Linked DNA regions of Homo sapiens. Changing the gene in region 2 together with the main gene of any one other region gives a genetic interaction. Each region holds a gene or a part of one and is shown on either strand. Other genes may lie near its edges.

Evidence for each region.
Region 1: changes in REV3L (region 2) and FAM107A impair growth when combined (synthetic growth defect), as found in Homo sapiens cells (one large-scale study listed by BioGRID).
Region 3: changes in REV3L (region 2) and CFLAR impair growth when combined (synthetic growth defect), as found in Homo sapiens cells (one large-scale study listed by BioGRID).
Region 4: changes in REV3L (region 2) and CACNA1A impair growth when combined (synthetic growth defect), as found in Homo sapiens cells (one large-scale study listed by BioGRID).

Annotation. Positions count from the first base shown.
Region 1 is NC_000003.12:58,574,058-58,582,169, reverse strand, and holds the start of FAM107A (actin-associated protein FAM107A), read left to right. Parts: upstream 1-4,778; 5' UTR 4,779-4,861; intron 4,862-7,355; exon of another isoform or gene 7,356-8,112. UniProt on the Homo sapiens protein: Stress-inducible actin-binding protein that plays a role in synaptic and cognitive functions by modulating actin filamentous (F-actin) dynamics. Mediates polymerization of globular actin to F-actin. Also binds to, stabilizes and bundles F-actin.
Region 2 is NC_000006.12:111,366,119-111,373,614, reverse strand, and holds part of REV3L (DNA polymerase zeta catalytic subunit), read left to right. Parts: coding exon 1-1,019; intron 1,020-5,586; coding exon 5,587-6,500; intron 6,501-7,496. UniProt on the Homo sapiens protein: Catalytic subunit of the DNA polymerase zeta complex, an error-prone polymerase specialized in translesion DNA synthesis (TLS). Lacks an intrinsic 3'-5' exonuclease activity and thus has no proofreading function.
Region 3 is NC_000002.12:201,165,860-201,173,355, forward strand, and holds part of CFLAR (CASP8 and FADD-like apoptosis regulator), read left to right. Parts: 3' UTR 1-7,496. UniProt on the Homo sapiens protein: Apoptosis regulator protein which may function as a crucial link between cell survival and cell death pathways in mammalian cells. Acts as an inhibitor of TNFRSF6 mediated apoptosis.
Region 4 is NC_000019.10:13,212,976-13,220,471, forward strand, and holds part of CACNA1A (voltage-dependent P/Q-type calcium channel subunit alpha-1A), read right to left. Parts: intron 1,634-7,496; coding exon 1,526-1,633; intron 1,359-1,525; coding exon 1,258-1,358; intron 1-1,257.

The DNA.
Region 1 (8,112 bases), on a different chromosome or scaffold from region 2:
CAAATTTAACTTCGATGTGTGACATTTTTATTTGGTACATCTAGCAACTATGCTGCCAGGAATCATGAAGTTTGCTCAGTTTGACAGCTGTGGTCTGCCCAGGTTCTCCTGCATGCATGCGCGCACACATACACACACACACAGAGAAACAGACACACACACGCACACACACACATGCTCCCTCTCACATCCTCTCACCATCCATAGATTCACTCACTGTGCTTCTTGTCTGATTACAAGGGAATTAAAATGTACTGGGGATGGGGGTACCCCAGGGTCCTTCTGCAGCTAAGAGACCAAATTAACCATGTCTAATTGCAGCTGGGTGGAGAGCCAGCTTTCAGAAACAAGACTCTAAGTTCTTCCCCACCCCCTCTCACTTTCCCATTTTCACGCTTGAAATCCCTCAACTGGGTAAATTCTTCCCGGTTCAAACTTGTTGTAAAGGCGACTCTCATTCCTTTTATAATCTCTCCACAGATCCCATGACAGGTTCTTTCTGCCAGCACAGCTTCTTCTCCCCCAACCCCCGAGTCCTTTCTGCAGAGCATGTTTGAGAGGCGGGGGGCACGGTTTAATCCTAGGGCTGTTTTGTGGGTGGCTGCTCAGAAACCCCATTGAGGCCTTGAAAAGGGGCCTTGGAGATTTAGACTGAATACAGGGCTGAGGAGGAAGTTTTAAGTTGCCATGGAAACTTCTTGTTTGATGTTCGTGGGCCCAGATAAGCTGTTCTAGGCGCCCATGGGCTTGGAGAAAGGGGGCAAAAATGAAACAAAAGCTGTTTGGGGAGGTTATTTTCTGCACACTGCAGCCCAGCCCACTATAGATGCAGGAAAATTCTCCACCTCCCTGTCAGGACTGCCTCCCCTGGTCTTCCCTGTCCCCCTTCCTTTGGGTTCCTCTGGTTCCCAAGAAATCAGAGTTAAAAGGGGATGGGAGGGAAGACAGGAGGGGTGTGCCCAGCCCCTGGGCTTCCCCCTTTGATGCCCCAGCTCACCAGGGGGCCGAGCAAGTATGCAGATCCCCAGGCCCCTGGCTTCCCAGAGTCCTTCCTTTTGGAAGAATAGGAAGACCTCCAGGGAAAGCCACACAGAAGGAGGCAGGAGACAGCGACTGTGGCTTGAATTATGCAATTACCTGGAGTAAACGCCTCAAAGGCTTGTTTGTTCAGAGGGCCTCTGTTTTCCCATATTCTGATGACATAACTGAGCCAGATGTGATTCCTAACTAACTACAGTTGTTTGGGAAATGTTGCTCTTTCTCACATTTTTAATTCTTAGAGTCTTTTTCTGATAACAAAAGTAATATATGCTAGGGCCTTTTTTTTTCTTTTAACACCGCAAACATCACAGAAATGCAGTGACAAAGGAGAAGGGCCTGTAATTTTACGCTGTAGAACAATGGTCCTCAAACTCTTTAATATAAATGAGCCCCCAGAGAGGTATGTTTAAAATCCAGATTCCATGGTGGCTTCATTCCTGTGATCCTAGCACTTTGGGAGGCTGAAGCAGGAGGAACACTTGAGGCCAAGAGTTCAAGACCAGCCTGGGCAACACAGTGAGATCTCATTTCTAAAAAAAATAAAAAATTAGCTGGGTGTGGTGGCATGTGTCTGTAGTCTCAGCTACTTGGGAGACTGAGGTGGGAGGCTCGCTTGATCCCAGGAGGTCAAGGCTGCAGTGAGCCATTATGGCACCACTGCATTCAGCCTAGGTAACAGAGTAATGCTCTGTCTCAAAAAAAAAAAAAAAAAAAAAATCCAGATTCCTAGGTTCCTCCCTAGGAAAAAAAAAAAGCAAGAGCATTTTTAGCACTCATTTCAAATGACATCTAGTAATAGTATTTGAGATACACTGATCTAGAGTTGACCTCTGCTAACAGATTAGTGTATTTGCCTCCACACTAGTTCTTTATACATATACCAACTTTTTTATCTTGAAAAAAAAAAGAGATCCTACTACATATGATTTTTCATTGAATATGTAGAAGACATCTTTTTCAGGTCAATACATAGACATGTTTATTGGCTGCATCTCGTCTTGGGGTGTAGCATAGTCTCTTGCTGATGGAGTGTGGCCTGGGAAAGGGTGGTGGTTGGCCGCTGATCTCACGTACAGTTGCACCTGCACATGGACACACAGCAAGATGGTGCTGTAACAAGCTCAGCGCTGTCAAGGTTTTCGGTGTCTTCAGGTTAACAATAGTTATTGAGCCCCTCAGTACTGGGACAGGAAGATAGGTAGGTACCTGCCCTGGGGCTAGCAGTCTGATGGGTTTGTATACAAGTTGGACTGTGAGAAGAGTTTTTGTGGGAGAAGCACAGTGACTCCCAACTGCCCACGGAAAATGACGCCCAACATCCGAGGACTACTGCCCAGTTCTCCTTGGCTGTCAGGTGCGTGTTCCTCTGAAGTGTACCAGGTGATGGGCTTCTGTCTTCTCCGGGGATGAGCAGGAGCTGTCAGAAGTTCCCCCGCTCCAGGATCCTTCTTACTCTCCAACTGTTAGAAGGCACTGGGATTGGTTCATCTGAGCCACCAAAGACCCTAGGAAATATTCAAAATACTTCTTTGCAGAGCAGGAGGATGTGTGCAAGGAACCAGGGTCAGCAAAGAGTGGTTTGACAAGAATCTAGCTGTCCTCTTCTACCAGGAGAGTTTGGGGAAGTTAAGGCAGAGCAGGGTGGGAGGCTGAGGGGGCTACCATTCATAGTGCCTCAAGAAATGCAGAATTGGGGAAGAAGAAAAAAAGGGACCACACATTGTTTCCAGAAAATTGTTTTATACCCAAGAATTTAGGACCCTCTTAGTTTAAGTGGCTCGAGAATGGTCAGCGTGGCCAAGACTCCCTGGACATGCCTGCCCTGTCCCTCCCACTCCACCCCTGTCTCCCACCTCCCTCACTCCCAAGATGGCACCCAGCCTGCCTTTACATCACACCAGGATCCACCCAGTCTGGGCCTTTCCACTGGCTCTTCCCACCCTACGAAGACTCTCCCATGTGTACAGACTTCACACAACTGACTCCTTGTGATTCTGCTACCCTAAAACACCACCCGCTCTCACCTCACCCAGCCTTGCGTTCATCACGGCATTCCTCACTGCCTGACGTCATCCTGAATGTCCCCTTCTTTACTGTGTGTCCCCCTTGAAGGTAGGTTCCCTGACAGCAGGGATATTACCTGTGTCATTCACATGGTACCCCCAGCACTTAGAACAGTGCCAGGAACACAGTAGGAATTAAATAAATGTTTGTTAAATGAACAAATAATATAGGCCAAAGAAGACACAAGGTTGCCTTGTTAAAGCCTCCATTCACCTGTGATGCATGTCCTAGGCCTCATCACCTTCTAGCCAACCAAGACTCCATGAGAAAGTAAAGTTGGGGTGGAGGCCTGGTCTAACTGGTAGACCCCAGCTTCCTCACTGGGGAACTAGGATGACACTAAACGATAGAAAACACTTCCAGCTTTTCAAGTGAAAGCTGATTCTGAAATTAGGAGAATGCCTCCATTATCTATAAGCATCCAGGCTGGCCTTAAGGATCTACATACATTTTTTACTTTTCTTGGGTTTTTTTGTTTGTTTGTTTTTTGGGTTTTTTTGAGACAGTCTTGCTCTGTCACCCAGGCTGGAGTGCAGTGGCCCAATCTTGGCTCACTGCAAACTCTGCCTCCCAAGTTCAAGCAATTCTCCTGCCTCAGCCTCCCAGGTAGCTGGGATTACAGGTGTGTGCCACCACCCCTGGCTAATTTTTGTATTTTTAGTAGAGACAGGGTTTTACCATGTTGGCCAGGCTGTTCTCAAACTTCTGACCTCAAATGATCTGCCTACCTCAGCCTCCCAAAGTGCTGGGATTACAGGCATGAGCTACCATGCCTGGCCTACTTTTATATTTTACATTCACATGTTCATTCATTGAGCCACTACTTATGGAACACATATTCTGCCAGGCAAAATGCACCATGCTGGGCTCTGGCCTCAGATCACGTAGAGTCCAGGTCTCTCTTGGAGAAAAGTCCTATATGCTGAGCTTTGACTATGTGCTTCACTAATGTCATCTCATCCATGTCATCTCCCAACCACCCTGGTATGCTCCACATTTGACAAACACAGAAACCAAGACACAGAGACACTGAGTGGCTGCTGAAGGGGCTGGTGCTGGAGCCAGGGCCAACACATGAGCCTGCTGAGACCCAGACACGGTGCATCCCCTCTCCCACGCTCTTCCGTTGGCTCCTCTGTGAAGTTCCAATGACATTCAAGGTATCAGGAAAACGCTGTGTACGGAGTTTCTGACCCATTCGTGGATAATTAAGAACTGACCCAATGCTGAGCAGTTTCCCCTCCCTTTACACCCCACCCTTTTCCCCCCAGAGCCATTTTCTCCTGAAGAATCCACACCACTGCCTCAGGAAGCTTGGCTTCCCCTCCCATGGGGAAGTGCTGGAATCCACTCTTGCCTGACCCTCCCATAAGAAACAAGGGAAATTCCTTTACGTGAGCCGCCTTGCTCAGAACAAAGCTTGGCGTGTTTCTTATTCCTCATCAATCTGACAAAATGGGTATTTATTTGTGCCTCTCAAGCGTGTGGCTTGGACATGATGTTCCGCATCGTGGAAGTGGCCGTGCACCAAGTGGAATATCTGTTACTATAGTAACAGTTCCTTTTTATTGATACCAGAATAAACAGGAATGCAAAGGCTGTCTCACTTGTTGGCACATTTCAGCAGCCTCCGTTCCCAGGGGTTTAAGAACCGCCCTCTAGAGGCAGCCCTCCTTGCTAGTCTGGGACTTCCCGGTGGAGTGAGGAACCCAGCAACACGCTCCTGACTTCCCTTCCCAAGGACTCGACCTGAGAAGTAAGACCATCTCTGTTCTGTTTCATCTGCTGTTGAGAGCGGTGCCGTTCGGGAGGAGGTGGAAGGGAAGGAGGGCAGACCCGGTACACTGAAGTGGGCTGTCAGTGGACCTGAGTGCTTTGAGTTTAGGTACCCGGGCTATGTCCCAGCATCCATAAAATGATACGGGAGATGCCTCCAGGCACCCTGGGTTTCGGAAAAGGGTAGGAGACAAAGAAGCGAGCCCCCTGGCATAGCCCTGCATTCTTGTTGATCTTTTTCTGCTGCATCCTCAGGTGAATCTGAATTAATGCATGATATAGCCTCACCTAAGTCAATTATCACACAGTATGGGGGTTTAATTCTCAGCACAACAGACAGAACACAGATTTCAGCTTCAGAGTTTGGCTCAGATTCAAGCTCTTTCCTTCACCGGCTGTGTGATTTGGGGAAATCAGATGACTTCCCTGAACTTCAGTTTCCTTGACTGTAAAAAGAGGATAATAACAGTACCCACCTCTTCAGTCTGTCGTAAGAATTTCATATTTCATGAGATATGGCTGCTAGGTGCTTAGCACAGTGCATGGCACATAGTGCACGCAGGTTAACGTGTGAAGGGCCTGCCTTTCTGGTGAATTTGGCTTTAGGACTTTGCAATACAAGGCAAGTCTGAGATTGGGCCAGAAATCAAGAGCTGTAGGATTGGGTGTGTCACTTTTTGAAACTGCTACCAAACCCAAGTAGCTTTGAGCTTCAAGGCAGCCCCCACGCCTGCATCTCTGGGTGGCTTAGATCCTGAGTGGCCCTCTTAGTTCTGTTGGTGGTGAGTACCTGCTGGAATTTTCCCTGCAGAGGCATCTGCCAGGTAAAGTGGCTGACATCATGCCACTAATGAGCCAGCAGGGATTCCAGGTCTGCTGATGCTTGTTCCAGATCAACTGCACAATGCTGTCCACTAACCTTGCTAAGTATCCTCCATGTCTAGCCCTGGACTCTGCTATTTAATTGGTTCAAAATCCTAAATGTCCACCCAACATTCTCCTTCCGAGGTAGGAAGTTGCAACGGACCTGAGGCAAAATGTTCAGGAAGTCAGCCTTGAGTCATTGCATCCAAATGGACAAGCAGCTCTGCTGGGGGCTTCCGAGCATCGACCAGAAGCTGCTGGGAGATCTGGAGGTGGCTCCGAGATACACTGTTCTTTGGCTGCTGGCCAGTGAAATACAAATAGGCACTTTCCCCATGGAGAGGAAAAAAGCCAGAAGGGTCAGGAAATCCAGTGACCGTGCTTGTCACTTTTACTGAATGCCTGTTTTTCCTTTGCCAGTCGTTATTTTGAAAGCCTCTCTTCTCCTCTGCCCTGGCATCCCATTAAATGCTGAACCAAGAGGGTTCTGAATGTGTTCGGAACCCAGCAGCTTGAACAGTAATGAGGAAGTGGGGGCACAGGAGGGAAGGCCACCAGCTGGTCCTCTCCTAAACAGAGACCAGCCTGAGGCCAGACAGGCCCGTGGACTCTAGCTTAAGCCCAAAGCTGCTAGGGCCAGGCTGGGGCTCCCCAGTGAGAGTTTGCATTTCACGTAGGCTAGGAGTCCTCAAGTTAGCAGGCCTCCATGTTCTTATCTATAAAATGGGCTCACACAGCCTCTTCATTGGGGTTTCTTGACTATCTAGAGAGAGAAAAGGGACATAACCCTGCTTTGTCAACTAAAAGACATTTTGCACCTTGAAGACAGTGGAGAGGTAGAAAGAGCATTGAATTTGGCGTCCAAGGTCCTGGCTTTGCTGCTTACTCTCTGTGTATCGAGACAAGTAGCTTGGCCTCTCTGAGCCTTAGTTTTCTCATCTATAAAACAGGGTACCACTGGCTGCCTCCAAGGGTGATTTAGAGATCCAGATCAAATTCTAGTGGTGACCACAGGGTTTCTTCAGGACAGAAGTACCATAGTTTGTCTTCGGTGAGCATCACTCTGCCAGGCGCTGGGCTAAGCACATCATGCCATTGTATCACTTCACCCTCCAAACTGCTCCATGAATAGGCTGTTATCCTTGCTGTATAGAGGCTCAGAGAGGTTAAGCTACTTGCCCAAGGTAACACAGCTGGGAAGGATTGCCACCATGAATCAAACCCACTCTGTCTCCACTAAAACATCTGCTTTAACCATTGCTTTACTGGCTTATGTGTCATTTGTTACAACTGATGCCATCGAAGACAGAAACATGACTACCAGAACAGTGGAGAGGCAAGTGGAAGGGACACTGAGGCCTTAGACAGCCTGGGGTCCCATGGCTATTGTCAAGACGAACTGGGCCCCGAGACTCCATCAGTGCAGCTCTCCTTCTGTCTCTCCTTACTCTCTCCTGTGGCTGCAGGCACCAGTGTTTGGTTTCAAATCTGCCACCCTGCATTAGCCATGCATGCCCCAGTGGCCCGGTGCACTCTCCGTGGGAGCAGCAGTGATCTCTGCTGAGCCTTGCCTGGTGTGGGGCCAACATCCTGTGGAGCCTGTGGCAAGGAGCTCTGGGACCTCTTGGGTCACCAACAGAACCAGGGAGGAACCAAGCAAGGGGTTCCAAATCTTTCCTCAGACCCCTTATTATCCCCACCCCAGGAAAAACAACATCAGTCCCATAAACTGCATATTGAGAATTATTTGCCATCCTATAGTCATGCAAGACACTCAATAGCTGTCGCCTACTGGTGGCCTCCACCCCATGCCCAGCTCTTTAGCTCATCCAATCTTCACAGCATCACAATTCTACAGAGGAGCATCCCAGAGGTTAGAGACCATCCCAAGATCACACAGCTGCTAAGAACTGTGACCTTAATCAGATTTGCTCACAATAACCAGGCCAACTACAGTCAGCTGAGATCCTTCAGGACCGAAGCAAATAAGTTTGTGTTTTGGGTTTTTAACTCCATGGTTTGCAAAGTTGGCTGACTCTAGGAATCACCTAGGGAGCTTTTAAAAATCCCCAAAGCCAAGCCGCCCCCCAAACCCATTAAATCAGAATCCCTGTGGTGGGACTCAGGCACTGGAATTTTTGAAACTTCCTGTGGTGATGCCGATATGCAGCCAAAGTTAAGATCCACTGATTTAACCAGTGTGGTTTCTGAGGATGAGAAGGCTCCATCTAGGACTAGGAATGGGATTTATTAATAGTGATTGTTAATAGCAGCTAACAGGGTGGTCACACTGCCATTCCAGGGGCACCATTCACAGTTTAATCTATAGGAGTTGAGGACTTGCTGTGAGGTACCCAACCAGCCTGT
Region 2 (7,496 bases):
AGAAAACCTCGAACTCCCAGAAGTACAAAACAAAAAGAAAAAATCCCCAAACTTCTCAAAGTAGACTCTTTAAATTTACAAAACTCTAGCCAGTTGGATAACTCTGTATCAGATGATAGTCCCATCTTTTTTTCAGATCCAGGCTTTGAAAGTTGTTACTCACTTGAAGATAGTTTATCTCCTGAACATAATTATAATTTTGATATTAACACAATAGGTCAGACTGGATTTTGTAGCTTTTATTCTGGAAGTCAGTTTGTCCCAGCTGATCAGAATTTGCCTCAGAAGTTCCTAAGTGATGCTGTTCAGGATCTTTTTCCAGGACAAGCTATAGAAAAAAATGAGTTTTTAAGTCATGACAACCAGAAATGTGATGAAGACAAGCATCATACCACAGACTCAGCCTCATGGATTAGATCTGGTACTTTAAGTCCTGAAATTTTTGAGAAGTCAACCATAGATAGCAATGAGAATCGTCGCCACAACCAGTGGAAAAATAGCTTTCATCCTCTAACAACTCGGTCTAACTCAATAATGGATTCTTTCTGTGTTCAGCAGGCAGAAGACTGTCTAAGTGAAAAATCTAGATTGAATAGGAGTTCAGTAAGCAAAGAAGTGTTTCTTAGCCTCCCACAGCCAAACAATTCAGACTGGATTCAAGGTCACACCAGAAAAGAAATGGGACAGTCTCTTGACTCAGCCAATACCTCTTTTACTGCAATACTCTCCTCCCCTGATGGTGAACTTGTAGACGTGGCCTGTGAAGATTTAGAACTGTATGTTTCAAGAAACAATGATATGTTGACACCAACTCCTGATAGTTCACCAAGATCTACTAGCTCTCCTTCACAATCTAAAAATGGCAGCTTCACCCCTCGAACTGCTAACATTCTGAAACCACTTATGTCCCCCCCAAGTAGGGAAGAAATTATGGCAACTTTGTTGGATCATGACCTGTCTGAGACTATTTACCAGGAACCATTTTGCAGTAATCCTTCTGATGTACCAGAAAAGCCCAGGTAATCAGTTATTTTTTCCCTTGGGTCACTCTGAATTATTATGATATATAAAATTATGCTATGGGGATTGAAAAAAAAAGAATGTATGCAACATTTGGTTACCTGACTGCTAGTTTTCTGTGATACCGTATTTGTAAGTATATCATTGTGGAAAGTATTTCTAATTACAGACTTACTAAGAAAATTCAAAAACTAACTGGATGGTTACACCTAGAGAAATTTATTTAAGTTGACTTGGATCTACCATTATTTAACACTATGTCTTCATTAAAGATTAGAGGTGCTCACTGTAAAGATGTCATGATACTTTAAAAGGATTACAATGATCATTGTTTAAATGGTATTTAATTTTTAAATGTTAAACTTTTATACCATTTTAAAAGAACTTCATTTTCAAGTGTTTTGAAAATGAGCATGTATGTGTTTTAAGTATTCCTCTGATATATCTCTAAGTGAAGATTATTGTAAGTTGTTTCTATTATAAACCACTTTTCATGTGGTTTCAATATCTTGTATTATATTGTTATTGTTATTATAGTTTATGCAGTTATTAGCAAATGGACTTTGGTTTCCATTCTCCTTTCTTTTAAGAATTTTTTCAGGTGGCTGGGTATGGTGGTGTGCACCTGTAATCCCAGCACTTTGGGAGGCCGAGGTGGGAGGATCGCTTGAGCCCAGGAGTTTGCGACCAGCCCAGGCAAAATAGTGAGACTCTCTCTCTACAAAAAATTAGGCCGGGCACAGTGGCTCACGCCTGTAATCCCAGCACTTTGGGAGGCCGAGGGGGGCAGATCACCTGAGGTCAGGAGTTCAAGACCAGCCTGGCCAACATGGTGAAACCCTGTCTCTACTAAAAATACAAAAATTAGCTGGACATGGTGGCAGGTGCCTGTAATCCCAGCTGCCTAGGAGGCTGAGACAGGAGAATCACTTGAACCCAGGAGGTGGAGGTTGTAGTGAGCTGAGATCACGCCACTGCACTTTGTTGCCTGGGCAATAAAGAGTGAAACTCCATCTCAGAAAAAAAAAAAAAAAAAGATAGCTGGGCATGGTGGCATGCACCTGTGGTCCCAGCTACTCAGGAGGCTAAGGAAGGAGAATCACTTGAGCCCAGGATGTCAAGGCTGCAGTGAGCTGTGTTCACGCCGCTGCATTCCAGCTTGGGCAATAGAATGAGACTTTATCTCAAAAAAAAAATCTCTTCAGGGAATTGATAGACAAACATGTGAGCGCACGCACACACACAGCAAATAGCAAAATAGAAATCAGAGTACTGGTTTATTTATCAGTAGTTAAGTAGTTATGGTGTATACCACTTTCATCACCAAGTTAGGACATAACTGATGAAAGCTAAATTGGGTAATGTGGCTTAATCCAGAAAGTTTAAATGATGGCTCTTGTTCCTGCCCTTGTGTCCATGATCTCATATACTTAACCAGTTGCAGAGCAGGCAGTTCATTTCAGCCATCCATTCAGAAGCAGAAGAGGATGGCTGGAACTGCTAAGGCAGGCCCTGCCTTAGTCTAAATCTTGGAAAGAGATAGGAAAAGCAGCAGAGGACACACTGCATGTATGCACTGACCTGTGGCAGTACCATGTTCCTGACTCCAGTGGGAAAAAAAAAAAAGAAAGATACAATATGAATATTACACATTTGTTCAAAGCCATAGAAAGTACCACACCAAGAACAAACCCAAATGTAATCTGTGGACTTTGGACAATTATGATGTGTCAACATAGGTTCATCGATTGTAACACATGTACCACTCTGGTAGGGGATGGTGATAATGAGGGAGGCCATGTATGTGTGGGGGCACAAGGGATATATGGGAAACTTCTGTACCTTCCTTTCAATTTTGCTGTCAACCTAAAGCTGTTAAAATATCTTTTTAAAAAAGTTTAAATTAAAAAAACACGACAGTGAATGCCAGGCTTTTACCCAGCAGATTCACAATAATTCCTATAGGAATCCATTTAAGAAAGGGTTGAGAATGTGAAATGATGGATATGTTAATTTGTTTCACTGTAAGAACCATTTTACTATATACTAATATCATATTTTATACCTTAAATATACACAATAAAATTTATTTTTTTAATAAAGGGGTGAGAAAAGGTTATCAGAAATGCAGAATAAAAGTTCTCTCCTGTAATGACTTGAAGTGAAAGGTAGAAATGTCCACCTCCCAGCCCCTTTTCAACACACAGTTTTGTTTAGTACCCACATGGAACTCTTTATTTCACTGCTGGAGCATATGAAATCTGTTCTTTAGACGTTAGTTTCCATCATTTTGGGGACTTTGGTGTTATTAGTAGTGATTATGGTATATTTACTTTTAGTTACCAAACTTTATGTGCTAGTCATTACCTTTGTGTTGTTGTTATTGTCCAACTTTGACACTTGTCCTGCAGCTAAAATAAAAAATAATCATTTTTGAAAAATATTTTTGAAATATGAAACTGTAGGCCGGGCACGGTGGCTCACGCCTGTAATCCCAGCACTTTGGGAGGCCAAGGTGGGCAGATCACAAGGTCAGGAGATCGAGACCATCCTGGCCAACATGGTGAAACCCCATCTCTACTAAAAATACAAAAATTAGCTGGGCATGGTGGCATGAGTCTGTAATCCTACTCGGGAGGCTGAGGCAGGAGAATCACTTGAACCAGGGAGTCAGAGGTTGCAGTGAGCTGAGATCGCACCACTGCACTCCAGCCTGGTGACACAGCAAGACTGTCTCAAAAAAAAAAAATGAAACTGTATATTCAATATAGAAAATTTAGGAAGTATGAAAGAAGAAAAAATAAAAATTACATCATTTTTCCATGTAGTAACAGCCACCATAATATTTTGATGTGTATTCTGTTTTCTTTTTTAAAAAGTATAGTTTTTAGTTTGTTTTGTTTTGTGAAGTGTGATCTTACTATAGTCACAGTATTATATCCAAATTTTTCACTTAACATTATATTGTAAACATTTTCCAAATGAGTTTCTTGAATATTTTAATCGCTGCATATGTTGCATCATGTATATATTATTGGACAGAAAGGTTGTTTGCAATTTTGCCACTATAGATATTATGTATATTATTATGTATGTTAAGAAGATATTAGCATTTTCTTCTTAAAGCATTTCTTGTATTTTGGAGTTTTTCCTTATAGCCCTAGAAGTAGGATTACTGAAAAATTTAAGGCTCTTGATACATATTAGGAGATTTTTTTTCCCAGTGGGTTATAGCAATTACCATGCTGCTGACAATATGTAAGAAAACTGAATTCACCACACCTCACCATTTTTTTTTTTTTTTTTTTTTTTTGAGACAGAGTCTGGCTCTGTCACCCAGGTTGGAGTGCAGTGGCGTGATTTCGGCTCACTGCAAGGTCCGCCTCCCTGGTTCACGCCATTCTCCTGCCTCAGCCTCCCGACACCTCACCATTTTTTATTCTTGACCTCATTATGACTTCTCTATCCTTAGTATTAGAGTTGGGTATGGTCACTTGGTATGTGTATTCATTTCCTTCAACAGCATTAATTCTGTTTCTGTTTTTTCACATTGCCAAGAGTGGATGCAGGGACAGTGCTGGATGCTGGTTATGGAGTTAACTAGTAGGGGCTTAAGTCTTTTCATATAAAGGAGACAGAGTAGCCCTAATGCTCTTCTTTCAGCTTCAAATCTGAAAACATGATCCAGTTAGTGGATTTTACATAGAGAGTGATGGGGACATTTGGGGAATCATGCCCTAAGAGAAGTGATTGAAAAAACTATGAATTAACTTTATATCCATAATAAAGTTAACATGAAGAAGTAGAATTATTTTATGTTGCTGTAGTAAGCAGAAATAGTATCAAGGGATTGGAGAAAGACAGAGGTTTCACTTAATATTTATAACTATTGGAAATGAAACCAGACTGTTTTCATTAGTGATTTCCCACATATTCATGCATTGGTAACATTTAAGCCATGCATCCTGTGGGCTCTGCCAGCTCCTAAGTTATGTCAGTGTTAATCCCTGCCATGGAATGGGAAGAAAGAATTAGAGTAATTTACCTCAGTTGGTATTTTTTTTAATGTTTAAGGGAATTTGAGAGTACGAAGATTCATTTGAATTGACTGGCTTTGTTAAACTACAGATACTGGAGAATATAGGAAGAAGCTATGAATAATATCCAGGGACATAGTATTTGAATGATAAATTCATTGTTTTTATTCATATGTGGTAATAATGGAAAATTTATTTTAAGATTAGGAGAGGAAAGGAATCTGAAAAGTTTGTGTCATCTCCTTGAAGGACAGAAGGCTTCATGGGGCATTAAAATAAAACAAAAAATACCTTCTCTCCCTAAGATTAATGGTACCTTCCAAAGGAAATTAAGTAGTAGTCATATACCTGTGAGGAAAAGCATATTGAGACTAAAGATAGAATGTACCTGCACAATATAGAGGGGGCAGGGAAGATAGACATGGACATTTTTGAGACTCCAAAAGGGACTTTATCTAGGATATGGAGTTAAATATTTTGGTAATTGCTCTTTGAAACAAAACAGTTGTTCTAAAATATGTTATTATAGGGAGATTGGTGGACGGCTCCTCATGGTAGAAACTCGACTTGCAAATGATCTGGCTGAGTTTGAGGGAGACTTTTCCTTGGAAGGACTTCGTCTTTGGAAAACAGCATTCTCAGCAATGACTCAGAATCCAAGGCCAGGGTCACCCCTTCGCAGTGGCCAAGGAGTTGTCAATAAAGGGTCAAGTAATAGCCCTAAGATGGTTGAAGATAAAAAAATTGTGATTATGCCTTGCAAATGTGCCCCAAGTCGACAACTGGTTCAAGTGTGGCTTCAAGCCAAAGAAGAATACGAACGTTCCAAGAAACTGCCTAAAACCAAGCCAACTGGAGTTGTAAAATCTGCTGAGAACTTTAGCTCTTCAGTTAACCCAGATGACAAACCTGTAGTGCCTCCAAAAATGGATGTAAGTCCATGTATACTCCCCACTACAGCACATACCAAGGAGGATGTTGATAATTCTCAGATTGCTTTACAAGCACCAACCACGGGATGTAGTCAAACTGCAAGTGAAAGTCAGATGCTGCCACCAGTTGCCTCTGCAAGTGATCCCGAAAAAGATGAAGATGATGATGATAACTATTACATTAGTTATAGCTCCCCTGATTCTCCAGTAATTCCCCCTTGGCAACAACCAATATCCCCAGATTCCAAAGCATTAAATGGAGATGATAGACCCTCATCACCAGTAGAGGAGCTGCCTTCATTGGCTTTTGAGAACTTCTTAAAGCCAATAAAAGATGGTATACAAAAAAGCCCCTGCAGTGAGCCTCAAGAGCCTCTAGTGATATCTCCAATTAATACTAGGGCAAGAACTGGGAAATGTGAATCACTTTGCTTTCATAGTACACCAATCATACAGAGAAAACTTCTGGAAAGGCTTCCTGAAGCACCTGGCCTTAGCCCATTATCAACAGGTAAGTGTACAAATAACAGGAAGTCTCCATAATTGTTCTTCAGAAATAGAAATGAAGATAACATTAGACTGTAATGAAAATCAGAGCTTTTTAAATGAAGGTATAGCTCAGCAAATATTTTTCGTCATGTCTTAGAAAGTCGTCACATGGCAACTGTCTTTCTGCTGTGAAATCTACTTATATTTGCTTCCATCCTGTCTTGTGGGTGAAATGCAGGAGCCCTCTCAAAAGGCTTATCTTCTCAACTTGACTTTCCTGTTGGCTTTTATACATACCCAGGTCTCCCACATTTTAAAACAGAAACAAAAAACCTGCCTTGACCTCACGTCTCCAGCCAGCTTCTACTCTTTCTCCTCCCCTTCAAAGCCAAATTTCTTAAAAGATTTATCTAATTTGACAACTCCAGTTATTTACCTCCTACTCATTTCTCAGCCCACTCTAAACTGAATTCTGCCCCTGTCATTCTACATTATAGCTCTTGTAAAGATTCCCAGTAAACTTATAGCTAAAACCAATAGATGTTCCTGAGTCTTATCATATGTCCTCTAAGCAGCCATTTTCTTGTTGACCTTACCTTCCTTCTTGGAGCTTCTCCACTTGGCTTTCCTCCTACTTCTCTGTTTTTTTCCCACTTGATTTTCTCATTATTCTCAGTTGTTATCTAAATGTTGGAGTTTATTAAGGCTTGGTCTTAAGCCTTCTTTATATCTTTCTCTAAATGATCTAATTCCTGTCTACAGGATTACTACAGATAACTCGCAAATTTATATTCCCAGTTCAGATCTCTCTTTTAAGCTCCAGAACACTATATCCAACTACCTATCTGACATTTCCACTTGAATGCTAAATGGCACCTCAAGATTAGTATTTTAAAAACCAATTCATGATCTCACCGCATACATTCACCACCACTTCCCCAACACACTTATATATACATGCCTCCACATAAAAACCCATCTGGCCTTCTTTCAGTTTTCCTTATTTCAATGAATAGTG
Region 3 (7,496 bases), on a different chromosome or scaffold from region 2:
TGGACACAGCACATGTTTCAGAGAGCACAGGGTTGGGGGTAAGGTCATAGATCAACAGCATCCTAAGGCAGAAGAATTTTTCTTAGTACAGAACAAAATGAAGTCTCCCATGTCTACTTCTTTCTACACAGACACAGCAACAATCTGATTTCTCTATCTTTTCCCCACCTTTCCCCCTTTTCTATTCCACAAAACCGCCATCGTCATCATGGCCTGTTCTCAATGAGCTGTTGGGTACACCTCCCAGACGGGGTGGCGGCTGGGCAGAGGGGCTCCTCACTTCCCAGATGGGGCGGCCAGGCGGACGCGCCCCCCACCTCCCTCCCGGACGGGATAGCTGGCCGGGCGGGGGCTGACCCCCCACCTCCCTCCCCGACGGGGCGGCTGGCCGGGCGGGGGCTGACCCCCACGCCTCCCTCCCGGACGGGGCGGCTGCCAGGCGGAGGGGCTCCTCACTTCTCAGACGGGGTGGCTGCTGGGCGGAGACGCTCCTCACTTCCCAGACAGGGTGGCTGTCGGGCGGAGGGGCTCCTCACTTCTCAGACGGGGCAGCTGCGGGCGGAGGGGCTCCTCACTTCTCAGACGGGGTGGCCGGGCAGAGAAGCTCCTCACATCCCAGACGGGGGGGCGGGGCAGAGGCGCTCCCCACATCTCAGACGATGGGCGGCCGGGCAGAGACGCTCCTCACTTCATCCCAGACGGGGTGGCGGCCGGGCAGAAGCTGTAATCTCGGCACCCTGGGGGGCCAAGGCAGGCGGCTGGGAGGCGGAGGCCGTAGCCAGCTGAGATCACACCACTGCACTCCAGCCTGGGCAACATTGAGCACTGAGTGGACGAGACTCTGCCCGCAATCCCGGCACCTCGGGAGGCCGAGGCTGGCAGATCACTCGCAGTCAGGAGCTGGAGACCAGCCCGGCCAACACAGTGAAACCCTGTCTCCACCAAAAAAATACGAAAACCAGTCAGGCGTGGCGGCGCCCGCAATGGCAGGCACGCGGCAGGCCGAGGCGGGAGAATCAGGCAGGGAGGCTGCAGTGAGCCGAGATGGCAGCAGTACAGTCCAGCTTCGGCTCGGCATCAGAGGGAGACCGTGGGGAGAGGGAGAAGAGAGGGAGGGGGAGAGGGCTATTTTTAAAATTTTTTAAAATTGCTGAACAGGGGTACCTCTGGGCAGTGTGTCAGAATACCACTTTTTAAATATTTTATGATTTATTTATTTTTCTATTTCTTGAGGTTTTAACTGATGTGTATCTGTATGTCTATTTGTGTATATTTTGTCATGATCATGTAACAGAGTCTGAAAAGTGTCGAAGAGACAGTTTTCAGGAACAACAAGCAATTATTCCTACTTTCCAAGTTATTTTGATGCCATGGTGGCTCATACCTATAATCTGAGTACTTTGGGAGGCTGAGGTGGACTGATCACTTGAGCCCAGGAGTTTGAGACCAGCCTGGGCAACATAGCAAGACTCCATCTCTACAAAAAAAGACAAAATTTAGCTGAGCGTGGTGGCGTGTTCCTGTAGTCCCAGCTACTTGGGAGGCTGAAGTGAGTGGATCCCCTGAGCCCAGAGAGGTCAAGGTTGTGATGAGCTGTGATCACACCACTGCACTTCAGCATGGGAGACAGAGTGAGACCCTGTTTCAGAAAAAATAAATAAATAAAACCACCAGCACCACAAACAACAACAAAAAGTTATTTTGTACTTGTTTTGAGCACAGGACTCCTGAGGGTATCTTTGCATTTAATATTACATAGGGGTGCCAGTGGGAAGTAATGTGTATGCTTGGCCTCATGAGCTAAAACCCTGTGTTAATTATGACAGAAGGAAAGTGTGTGAGAGAGATCTTAACTACCTAGCAGCTCTAGCTGCCATCTTGAACCATGAAGATACGGGCCACACGTAGGGGTAGCTGGGTAGTGAGCAGCAAGAAGCCTTGTTGGATGAGGGCACGAAGGAGCAGAATCACTGGAATCACTGTGTCAGCCCTAATTACCTACCTCTGGACTTTTATGTGAGGGGAAAAAAAATTGACAGTTTATATTTATCTCAACCTAGTTAACCCAAGTGATGCATTGTTATGAGATTAAAATGTTTGGAGGCCGGGTGCGGTGGCTCACGCCTATAATCCCAGCCCTTTGGGAGGCCAAGGCGGGCGGATCACGAGGTCAGGAGATCAAGACCATCCTGGCTAACATGTAAAACCCCGTCTCTACTAAAAATACAAAAAATTAGCCAGGCGTTGTGGCGGTCGCCTGTAGTCCCTGCTATTTGGGAGGCCGAGGCAAGAGAACGGCATGAACCTGGGAGGTGGAGCTTGCAGCGAGCTGAGATCTTGCCACTGCACTCCAGCCTGGGCGACAGTGCGAGACTCTGTCTCAAAAATAAATAAATAAATAAATAATAAATAAAATGTTTGGAATGTTGGCTTCATCCCTGGGATGCAAGGCTGGTTCAACATACGCAAATCAAGAAACATAATTCATCACATAAACAGAACTAAAGACAAAAACCACATGATTATCTCAATAGATACAGAAAAGGCCTTCAATAAAATTCAACGTTGCTTCATGTTAAAAACTCTCAATAAACTAGGTATTGATGGAAAATATCTCAAAATAATAACCATTTATGACAAACCCACAGCCATTATCATACTGAATGGGCAAAAGCTGGAAGCATTCCCCTTGAAAACTGGCACAAGACAGGGATGCCGTCTCACCACTCCTATTTAACATAGTATTGGAAGTTCTGGCCAAGAAAATCAGGCAAGAGAAACAAATAAGGGGTATTCAAATAGGAAAAGAGGAAGTAAAACTGTGTTTGCAGATGACATGATACTATATCTAGAAAACCCCATTATCTCCACCCAAAAGTTCCTTAAGCTGATAAGCAACTTCAGCAAAGTCTCAGGATACAAAATCAATGTGCAGAAATCACAAGCATTCTATACACCAACAATACACAAGCAGAGAGCCAAATCATGAATGAACTCCCATTCACAGTTGCTAGAAAGAGAATAAAATACCTAGGAATACAGCTAATAAGATGTGAAGGATCTCTTCAAGGAGAACTACAAACCACTGCTCAAGGAAATAAGAGAGGACACAAATGAAAAAACATTCCATTCTCGTGGATAGGAAGAATCAATATCATGAAAATGGCCATACTACCCAAAGTAATTTATAGGTTCATTGCTATTCCCATTAAACTACTATTGACATTCTTCACAGAATTAGAAAAAAACTACTTTAAAATTCAAATGGAACCAAAAAAGAGCCCGTATAACCAAGACAACAATAAGCAAAAAGAACAAAGCTGGAAGCATCACACTACCCAACTTCAAAGTATACTGCAAGGCTACAGTAGCCAAAATGGCATGGTACTGGTACAAAAACAGACACATAGACCAATGGAACAGAATAGAGACCAGAGAAAGAAGACCACACATCTACAGCCATCTGATCATCGACAAACCTGACAAAAACAAGCAATGGGGAAAAGATTCCCTATTTAATAAATGGTGCTGGGAAAACTGGCTAGCCATATGCAGAAAATTGAAACTGACCCCTTCCTTACACCTTATACAAAAATTAACTCAAGATTAAAGACTTAATGTAAAACCTAAAACTATAAAAACCCTAGAAGAAAATCTATTTAATACCATTCAAGACATAGGCACAAGCAAAGGTTTCATGACAAAAACATCAAAAGCAATTGCAACAAAAGCAAAAATTACAAATGGGATCTAATTAAACTAAAGAGCTCCTGCACAGCAAAAGAAACTATCATTAGAGTGAACAGGCAACCTACAGAATGGGAGAACATTTTTGCAATCTATCCATCTGACAAAGGTCTAATATCCAGAACCTACAAGGAACTTAAAACAAATTTACAAGGAAAAAAACAACCCCATCAAAAAGTGGACAAAGGACATGAACAGACACTTCTCAAAAGAAGACATTTATGTGGCCAACAAACATATAAAAAAAAGCTCAACCTTACTGATCATTAGAGAAATGCAAAGGAGAACCACAATGAGATACCATCTCATGCCGGTCAGAATGGTGATTATTAAAAAGTCAAAAAACAACAGATGCTGGCGAGGCTGTGGAGAAGTAGGAACACTTTTACATTGTTGGTGGGAATGTAAATTAGTTCAACCGTTGTGGAAGTGTGTGTGGCTATTCCTCAAAGATCTAGAACTAGAAATACTATTTGTCCCAGCAATCCCATTACTGGGTATATACCCAAAGGAATATAAACCATTTTATTATAAAGATACATGCACATTTTTGTTCATTGCAGCACTCTTCACAATAGCAAAGACACAATAGCAAATGCCCATCAAAGATAGACTGGATAAAGAAAATGTGGTACATATACACCATGGAATACTGTGCAGTGCAGCCATTACAGCTTTTGGTGATACAGTGAATCAGATTTTTCATTAATTCTTTTAATTGGTTATTACTGAACGTGAAAAAGTAATGTTTGTATTGAAATCTTGAGTCTGGCCATGTTTCTATTTTAAATTCATAAAGAATTCTAACAAGAGGAATTCCAAGAATGTCATAAATGGATGTTTCTCCATGGATGAAGGAACTGTTTTATTCACTTGCTGATAATTCAGCCTAATCCAGTTTGACATCATATAGATAAGTAGTTGAATTATGGATTTAAAATACATATCATTTTCTAACTCCAAAGGTAATACTTATTTAAATGGTTTTGAAAATATAGAAAGGCACAATTTCTTTTTAAATCTGTTATTCTCCACCACCACTCAATCTGTCTATCATCTATCTCTCCATTCATTCTTCCATTTGTTTATATCTGTTAATCTTTGTATGTGTTCATGTATAGCTTTTACATGATTGGAATCATAATGCATATTCCATTTTGAAGTCTGCTTTTTTTTACACAAAAATATGTTGTGAATATTTTCCTATATTATGAAATATCATTAGCTGAGCTTTTAGAATTGACTGCATGTTTTGGTACCATTTAGATATAGTTTAAGATACTTAGAAGTTATGTGGCTTTGCCACTATGGATGAATCTTATTTACTCAATATTAATTACTTACAAATAACCTCACCTAAACACTACTCAGCCATAAAAAGGAATGAATTAATGACATTCACAGCAACCTGGAGACTATTACTCTAAAGGAAGTAACTGAGGAATGGAAAACCAAACATTGTATGTTCTCACTCATAAGTGGGAGATAAGCTATGAGGATGCAAAGGCATAAGAAGGATACAATGGACTTTGGGGACTTAGGGGAAAGGGTGGGAGGGGGGTGAAGGATAAAAGAATACAAATTGGGTTCAGTGTATACTGCTCAGGTGATGGGTGCACCAGAATCTCACAAGTAACCACTTAATTACTTACGCATGTAACCAGATACCACCTGTTCCCCAAACACCTATGGAAATAATTTTGTTTTTTTTTTTAAAAAAGGAATGAGATCATGTCCTTTGCAGGGACATGGATGAAGCTGGAAGCCATTATCCTCAGCAAACTAACAGAGGAGCAGGAAACCAAACACCACATGTTCTCACTTGTAAGCGGAAGCTGAACAATGAGAACACACGGACACAGGGATGAGATCAACACACACTGGGGCCTGATGCAGGGGCCGTAGCGGGGAGAGCATCAGGATAACTAGCTAATGCATGTGGGGCTTAATACCTAGGTGATAGGTTGATAGGTGCAGCAAACCACCATGGGACACGTTTACCTATGTAACAAACCCGCACATCCTGCACTTGTATCCAGAACTTAAAATATTTTAAAAATCTTTAGAGAATACAAAAAAAAAAAAAAAGATTCTTCAATGCATACACAATAAAATTGCAGTTCAGTCAAACATTGGAAGTCTTTCTCTGACTGTCTAGTTGGTATCTTCATTTTCAGCTTCTTCAAGATCCCACTCCAAACACTGTTAGCTCAGCCAAATTGAACAGCTCATATCTCCTACCTCTGGATCTTTGGTTCTGGTGATTGTATATTTCTGGACCATCTGGAACCCCAGCATATCACCCTACCCCACATCTCCACATCCCCAAAATATAACCATACTTCAAGGGCAGTTCAAATACCATCTCCTTCTATCCTCCATGAAGTCAGTTATCTCTTCCATTGGAATTATCGCCCCCTCTCCTGAACAGTACTATTTCGTGTGAATCTCCTCCAAGCCTTCTTTTCATTTTATATCTCATGCTGTAATTCTTGGAAAGTATGCTGTAGCTCAAGTGCAGAATTCTCATCAGTTTTATCTTTATATCTCTCCTAAACACTTTACCTGATGAAGAGCCTGGCATACACATAAATATATATTGAATGAATCAGTGATGGATTGAAAAGAGAAATGATGGATCTCCTAAATTTTAACTTTTATAAAATATTTTGATACATTCATGACCTTACTTTAGCAAGCAATGAACGTGATGTAAACTATTGTTGATATAGTTTTTATATTGGAAGTGTAAGTAGTTTGTGGCATGGGATTGTGACATATCCTAGGTTTCCTCATCTTCTTTTTATTGAAATGTAATTCACAAGCCATAAAATTTGCCCCTTTAAAGTAAATGATGCAGTGGATTTTAGTATATTTACAGAGTTGTGCAATCATCACCACTATCTAATTCCAGAACATTTCCATCTACCTAGAAACTCCATACCAGTGAGCTGCCACTCTAATCCTCCTCTTCCCCCAGCCTCTAGAAACAATAATCCATTTTCTGTCTCTATGATTTGCCTGTTCTAGATATTTTATAAAAATAAACATGTGGCCTTTCGTGTCTGACTTCCTTCACTTAGCATGTTTCAAGGTTCATCTATGCTATAGAGTGTACCAGTGCTTCATTACATTTTATGGCTGAATAATACCCTATTGTGTGGATATACCGCATTTAGTTTATTCATCAGTTGATCGAAATTTAGACTGTTTCCACTTTTTTGCTATTATGGATGATGCTGCTATGAATATTCGTATATGAATTTTTATATGGATATATGTTTTCAGTTCTTCTGGGCATATACCTTAGAAGTGAGAGTGCTCATCATATAGTAACTCTATGTTTAGCCTTTTGAGGAACTGCCAAACTGCTTTTCAAAGTAGTAGCATCATTTTATATTCCCACCAGCAGTGTATGAGGTTTTTTTTATTTTTTTGTTTTTGAGACGGAGTCTCACTCTGTCGCCCAGGGTGGAGTGCAGTGGCGTTATCTTGATTCACTGTAACCTCTGCCTTCTGGGTTCAAGCCATTCTCCTGCCTCAGCCTCCCTAGTAGTTGGGAGTAGCTGGGTTTACAGGAGCTCGCCACCATGCCCAACTAATTTTTGTATTGTTTTTTGAGACGGAGTCTCGCTCTGTGGCCCAGGCTGGAGTGCAGTGGTGCAATCTCAGCTCACTGCAAGCTCCGCCTCCTGGGTTCATGCCATTCTCCTGCCTCAGCCTCCCAAGTATCTGGGACTACAGCCGCC
Region 4 (7,496 bases), on a different chromosome or scaffold from region 2:
CCCAGGTCTCCCGCTCCTACCTTCAACCCCACTGTTCCACAAGAGCCACCAGAGGGCGCCCATGAGCACTTGAGTCAGGTCCTATCCCTCCTTTGCTTAGAACCCTCCATGGCTCCCACTTGCTTGGGGAAAAAGCCAGAGTCCTTCCTGCAGCTCCCATGGCCCTGAAGGATCTGCCCTGTCACCTCCTTGCCCTTGTCTCCTCCCTGCTCTTTTCCACCACACTGGCCTCTTTGCTGTTACCCAAACAACCCAGGCACGGTCCAGCCTCAGAGCCTTTGCACTGGCTGTTTCCTCTGCCTGGAACACCCTTCCAGGTATTGCTTAGCTCACTCCCTCTCCCCTTTTCCTTCAAGCCTTTGCTCACATGTCACTTTCTCAGGGAGGCTCCCCAACTACCCATTTCCCACCGCATCCCCTCCTCCCCTGGATACTCCTATCTTCTGGATTCTTCTCCACTTTCCCCCACGACACTTTCTTTCTCTTTGCTGGATGTTGCACGATTCAGTCATTTGCTACCATTGGCATTTCCCCACTTGGAATGTCTGCTCCCTGAGGGCAGGGATTCTGGCCTATTTTCCCCATGGGTGCATCCCCGAGGACTGAGAACAGCGCCCTGCACACAGTAATACTCAATAAGTGTTGGTGGAGCAGCTGAATGAAGAATGAATCCACATGATGTGTCCTTGGCAAGAACTTTTTTTTTTTTTTTTTTTTTTTTTTTTGAGATAGAGTCCTGCTCTTATCACCCGGGCTGGAGTGCAGTGGCTTGATCTTGGCTTGCTGCAACCTCCACCTCCCAGGTTCAAGTGATTCTCCTGCCTCAGCCTCCCAAGTAGCTGGGACCACAGGTGCATGGCGCCACATGCAGCTAATTTTATTTTTTTTTTGTAGAGATATGGGTCTTTCTATGTTGCCCAGACTGGTCTCCCACTCCTGGCCTCAAGTGATCCTCCCATCTTGGCCTCCTAAATAGCTGGGACTACAGGTGTGCACCACCATGCCTGGCTAATGTTTTATTTTGTAGAGATGGAGTCTCACTGTGTTGCCCAGGGTGGTCTCATCCTGGTCTCAAACGATCCCTCTGCCCTGGCCTCTCAAAGCACTGAGATTGCAGGTGTGAGCTGCTGTGCACAGCCCCTACTTTTCAGGGACCTGCCCTGGGGCTCAGCCACCCTCATATTCCAGTTGGTTCCCGTGGTGACATGCAAGCCACTGTCCCCAGCCCAGATGTCCCCAGAGCGGCGAACAGCGCACCTGCTCCTCGCGCATGGCCTGCAGCTTCTTGGCCTTGCTCTGCCGGTAGTACTCCATGATCATCATGGCTGCGTAGATCTTCCCCACGGTGAGGTCCGTGGCTGGGGGCACACACACGGTGAGCTCACCAAGGGCAGGCCTCTTTGGGGCCCTTGTCCTGGGTCCCTGTGTATACCAGCCCAGGCCAACACTCTCCCCAGGCCTCCCCTTTCCCTCCCCCTCCATCTGTCCTGGTGGATTGGATCCCAGGGCTGGGCTCAGCTCTTACACTTGTGAGGTGTGACCAGCAGGTCTAGCGTCTTCTGGGACAGATTGGGCCAAATCGCCATCATCTCCTTCCGCAGCTCAGCGTCCATCTGCTGTTTGTCGGCTCCTCCTGCAATGGGGGTGTAGACAGACCCTGACTGCCTGCCTGGGTGTCAGCTGGACTCTGGGTCAGCTGCAAAGCCATAGGCTCCCGAGAACGAGACCCCAATCTTTCTGGTCCCCATGGGGTCTCCAGTTCCCCAACGGCCTGGCCCAGAGGAGGCCCTGGGCAGTGCTGCTGGAATGACCTTGTGGGCTCTGGTTTTCGGTGGGGCCAGGACCATGGAGCAGCTGTGCAGGAGACAGCCCGGCATGGAGAACAGCTGGGCGACCTGGGTCCCAATCTTGTCTCCCAGTTATCGGCTGCATGACTTAGGTTACTCTACCACTTAGTAACTCAGTTTCTCCATCTGTGAAATGGAGATGATAGCAAGAGTACTTGCCTCACCTGGTTGTTGTGTGTGTGTGTGTGTGTTTTTTTTTTTTTTTTAGACAGAGTCTTGCTCTGTTGCCCAGGCTGGAGTGCAGTGGCACGAGCTTGGCTCACTGCAACCTCCGACTCCTGGGTTCAAGCAATTCTCCTGTCTCAGCTTCCCGAGTAGCTGGGATTACAGACATGCACCACCATGCCTGGCTAATTTTTTGTATTTTTAGTAGAGACGGAGTTTCACCATGTTGGTCAAGCTGGTCTCGAACTCCTAACCTCGGGTGATCCACACGCCTCGGCCTCCCAAAGTGCTGGGATTACAGGCGTAAGCCACCGCGCCTGGCTGGTTGTTTTTTTTTTGTTTTTTTTTTGAGATGGAGTTTCACTCTTGTTGCCCAGGCTGGAGTGCAATGGTGCAATCTCAGCTCACTGCAACCTCTGCCTCCTGGGTTCAAGCGATTCTCCTGCCTCAGCCTCCCGAGTAGCTGGGATTACAGGTGTGCACCACCACGCCCAACTAATTTTGTATTTTTAGTAGAGACGGGGTTTCACCATGTTGGCCAGGCTGGTCTCAAACTCCTGACCTCAGGTGATCCACCCTCCTCAGCCTCCCAAAGTGCTGGCGATTACATGCGTGAGCCACCGCGTCTGGCCTGTTTTTTTTTTTTTTTTGACAGAGTCTCTCTCTGTTCCCAGGCTGAAGTGCAGTCATGTGATCTCGACTCACTGTTACCTCCGCCTCCCAGGTTCAAGAGATTCTCCCGCTTCAGCTTCCTGAGTAGCTGGGACTACAGGCACGCACCACCATGCCTGGCTATCACCTGGTTGTTTGATGATCAAAGTAACGTGCGTGCAGCCTTGGGACAGTGTCTGCCATAGGATTATTACTGCAGTGACCCATCTGTTCAAGGCTGGGACGCCCTGGAGCATCCCCAACAGAGGAAGTTTTGGTTTTGGTTTTATTTTGATTTTTGAGACAGGGTTTTGCTCTGTCGCCCAGGCTAGAGTGCCGTGGCACAAACATAGCTCACTGCAGTCTCGACCTCCTGGGCTCAAGATCCTCCCACCTCAGCCTCCCAAAGTGCTGGAATTACAGATGAAAGCCACTGTGCGTGGCTCAGAGGAGGTCTTTTCCCCTTTCCCAAGTCTCCACTGCCACGGACATGCCCTTGGCCTGCAGCCAGTCCCTCGTCCCTCACCCCAGTCATGGGGTGAGTCATTAAAGCTCTCTGACGGTGTTTCCTGGCCCTCCTACCTGAGTACATGGGGGGGTTCCTCCTGTGGTTGGCAGGGCCATGTGATGAGTCCTTGCTAATGGGGTGTGCACCATGTAATGTGCCACTTTGGGGCCAGAGCATTTATTATTATTTTTATTATTGTTATTATTTTTGAGATGGAGTCTCGCTCTGTCACTCAGGCTGGAGTGCAATGGCATGATCTCGGCTCACTGCAACCTCCACCTTCAGAGTTCAAGCGATTCTCCTACCTCAGCCTCCTGAGTAGCTGGGATTACAGACATCTGCCTGGCTATTTTTATATTTTTGTAGAGACAGGGTTTCACCATGTTGGCCAGGCTGGTCTCGAACTCCTGACCTCAGGTGATCTGCCTGCCTCGGCCTCCCAAAGTGCTGGGATTACAGGCATGAGCCACTGTGCCTGGCCTATTATTTTTTTTAAAAATTTATCTATCTATCTATCTATCTATCTATCTATCTATCTATCTATCTATCTATCATCTATCTATCGATCGACAGGGACTTACTCTGTTGCCCAGGCTGTGGCACAATCTTTGTTCACCGAAGCCTTGAGCTCCTGGGCTCAAGCAATCCACATTCTGACAGTCAGAATGTCACTGTGGGCTGCTATTTGGATATGCTAACTGGGTTTACGTTTAATATGCTAATTGGTTCAGGCAGGTAGTTGGCTCTGCCCTCAATGCCTGGGGTGGGGGGCTTGAAAGAGGATAGGGTCCAGCCTGGTCAACATGGTGAAACCAGTCTCTAGTAAAAATGCAAAAATTAGCTGGGCGTGGTGGCGTGCGCCTGTAATCCCAACTACTCGGGAGGCTGAGGCATGAGAATCGCTTGAACCTGGGAGGTGGAGGCTGCAGTGGTGAGTTGAGACTGCGCCACTGCACTCCAGCCTGGGCGACAGAACGAGACTCCGTCTCAAAACAATACAAAACAAACAAAACCAAAACCAAAATAGAGATTCTTCTGGGCAGAGAGAACAGAGGGGTGGGTGGGAGAGAGAAACAGATGGACAGGGAAGAGAGAGAGAGAGACAGAGACAGAGAGAATGAGATGGACTTGCCCCCTTTCTCCCAGTCTCCAGCAATGAATGGTGACACCATTTTTGAGAATCTGAAGAATGAGGTTAATCTGTACCCCCTTTGCAGCCCCTTAGCCTGCTGGAAAGGAAGCTCAGTGTGCTTAGAAAGTGAGCTGAACTATGAAAAGAAAGCGCGTTATGTTCTCCTGAGACCCGCATCTGCTCAAAGGGCTGCCACTGTTATCACTCTTCCATTGTTGTCCCCACACCCTCTTGACCTTCCGTAACCCCGAGAGCCTGGCTCAGCTGTGGAACTCCAGGATGAGGCCTGGCACCCACTGAGGACAAGAGGTGGAGGGGCTCCTGGCTGAGAAATCTGGGGGATCATTGTCTTCAGGGAACTGAGTGGCATCTGGGGTACAAGTAACAACTGTGACAGCCAAATTCAGAGACATCTCCAGGAGTCTTTGAAACCCTCAGGAAGGGAATCCAGTAGGTGTCATAGAAGCTGGGGTGCTAAGCAGTAAGGACTAGCTCAGTAGGCTAGTGTTGTCCAAACCCTGCACATTCCGATGAAAGGACTGGCCCATTGACTTGCTCCTGGGAGGTGATCTCTAAGCCTTTGAAATGTCCTGCCTGAAGAGTGTCTTTATTTAGCAGGGGGCCTTGGGCCACACTGTATAGTTCATTCTTTTTTTTTTTTTTTTTTTTTTTTAAAAAAAAGAGATAGGGTCTCACTATGTTGCCTAGGCTGGTCTCGAACTCCTGGCCTCAAACGATCCTCCAGCCTCAGCCTCCCAAAGTGCTGGGATTATAGGCATGAGTCACTGTACCCGGCCAATACAGTTCATTCTATTTATTTATTTATTTTGAGATGGTGTTTTTGCTCTATTGCCCAGGCTGGAGTGCAATGGTGCGATCTTGGCTCACTGCAACCTCGGCCTCCTAGTTTCAAGTGATTCTCCTGCCTCAGCTTCCCCAGTAGCTGGGATTACAGCCGCCCGCCGCCACGCCTGGATAATTTTCCATACAGTTCATTCTAACAATGCGATTTATCGTTGGGGTCTTGGGCCACGTGGTATCAGTTTGACCTCTGGAGGGACTGGAGACTGAGTAACTACGTCAGCCCTGCCTATATGACAAACCCTCAATAAAAACCCTGGGGCACCAAGGCTCAGGTGAGCTTCCCTGGTTGGCAGTACACGGTGCGTGTTGTCACACACTGCAGGGAGAATTAAGCGTTGTCTGTGCAACTCCACTGGAGGCAGACAACTGGAAGCTCGCACCTGGTGTCTCCTGGACCCTTCCCCAGATGCCCTTCCTTTGCGCATTTTATGTTTTTGGAATTTGTTTGTTTGTTTGAGACAGAGTCTTGCTCTGTTGCCCAGGCTGGAGTGCAGTGGCGTGATCTTGGCTTAATGTAGCTCTATCTCCTGGGTTGAAAGGATTCTTGTGCCTCAGCCTCTGGAGTAGCTGGGACTACAGGTGTATGCCACCACACCTGGCTAATTTTCTTTTTGGACAGAGTTTTGATCTTGTCACACAGGCTGGAGTGCAATGGCACAGTCTCAGCTCACTGCAACCTCTGCCTCCCAGGGTCAAGCGATTCTCCTGCCTCAGCCTCCTGAGTAGTTGGGATTACAGGGGTCTGGCACCATGCCTAATTTTTGTATTTTTGGTAGAGACGGGGTTTCGCCATGTTGGCCAGGCTGGTCTCAAACTTGTGACCTCAAGTGATCTGCCCGCCTTGCCCTCCCAAAGTGCCAGGATTACAGGCGTAAGCCACCATGCCAGGCCCTTTGCAGATTTTTTTTTTTTTTTTTTTTCTAATAGAGTCTCACTCTGTCCAGCCTGGAGTGAAGTGGCGGGATCTCGGCTCACTGCAACCTCTGCCTCCTGGGCTCAAGTGATTCTCCTACCTTAGCCTTCCAAGTAGCTGGGATTACTGGCGCCAGCCACCACGCCTGGCTAATTTTTGTATTTTTAGTAGAGACAGGGTTTCACCATGTTGGTCAGGCTGGTCTTGAACTCGTGACCTCAAGTGATCTGCCTACCTCGCCCTCCCAAAGTGCTGGGATTACAGGCGTGAGCCACCGTGCCCGGCCCTTTGCAGATTTTAATCTATATTCTTTCACTGTAATAAACTGTGAGTATAAAAACTTTTCTCAGTTCTGAGTTCTTCCAGGGAATCACTGAACCTGTGGGTGGTTTTGGGACCCCTGAACACAGATTCTCAGAGTGCCACAGAAGCTGAGTTACGATGGCATTACATACAAAGAGTGGGGGTGTTGTTAGACCCGTTGTACAAACGAAGGAACTGTGGTAGGCAGAATTCAAAAGCTGCCCTTCTGCCAAGATTCTGTTTATTCAAACACTAATCTAGGGACCATTGCCCAGGCTATGAAGGGACTTTGCAGATATAATTAAAATACCGGAGGCCCGGTGCGGTGGCTCACGCCTGTAATCCCAGCACTTTGGGAGGCCGAGGTGGGCAGATCACGAGGTTGGGAGATCGAGACCATCCTGCTATCATGGTGAAACCCCGTTTCTACTAAAAATACAAAAAATTATCCGGGCGTGGTGGCACGCATCTGTAGTCCCACCTACTTGGGAGGCTGAGGCAGAATCACTTGAACCCGGGAGATGGAGGTTGCAGTGAGCCGAGATTGCGCCACTGCACTCCAGCCTGGGTGACAGAACAAGACTCCGTTTCAAAAAAAAAAAAAAAAAGAAAGAAAATGCTGGGCATGGTGGCTCACTCCTGTAATCCCAGCACTTTGGGAGGCTGAGGCGGGTGGATCACCTGAGGTCAGGAGTTCAAAACCAGCCTGGCCAACCTTGTGAAACCCCATCTCTACTAAAAATACAAAAAAATTTAGCTGGGCGTGGTGGTGGGCACCTGTAATCTCAGCTACTCAGGAGGCTGAGGCAGGAGAATTGCTTGAACCTGGGAGGCGGAGATTGCAGTGAACTGAGATCACACTATTATACTCCAGCCTTGGCAACAAGAGTGAAATTCTGTCTCAAGAAAAAAAAAAAATATCAAGTCAGCTGACCTCAAAATACAGAGATGATCAGGGTAGGCCTGCCCCAATCAGGTGAGCCCTTGAAAAGCACAGTATTGTCTCTGCTGGGTGGCAGATGGGGAAGTCAGAGAGAATGAGAGCACATGGAGGATTACATGCACTTCCAGGAGCAAAAAGCTAAAAAGCCAGTGATAAAACAAGACCTCAGT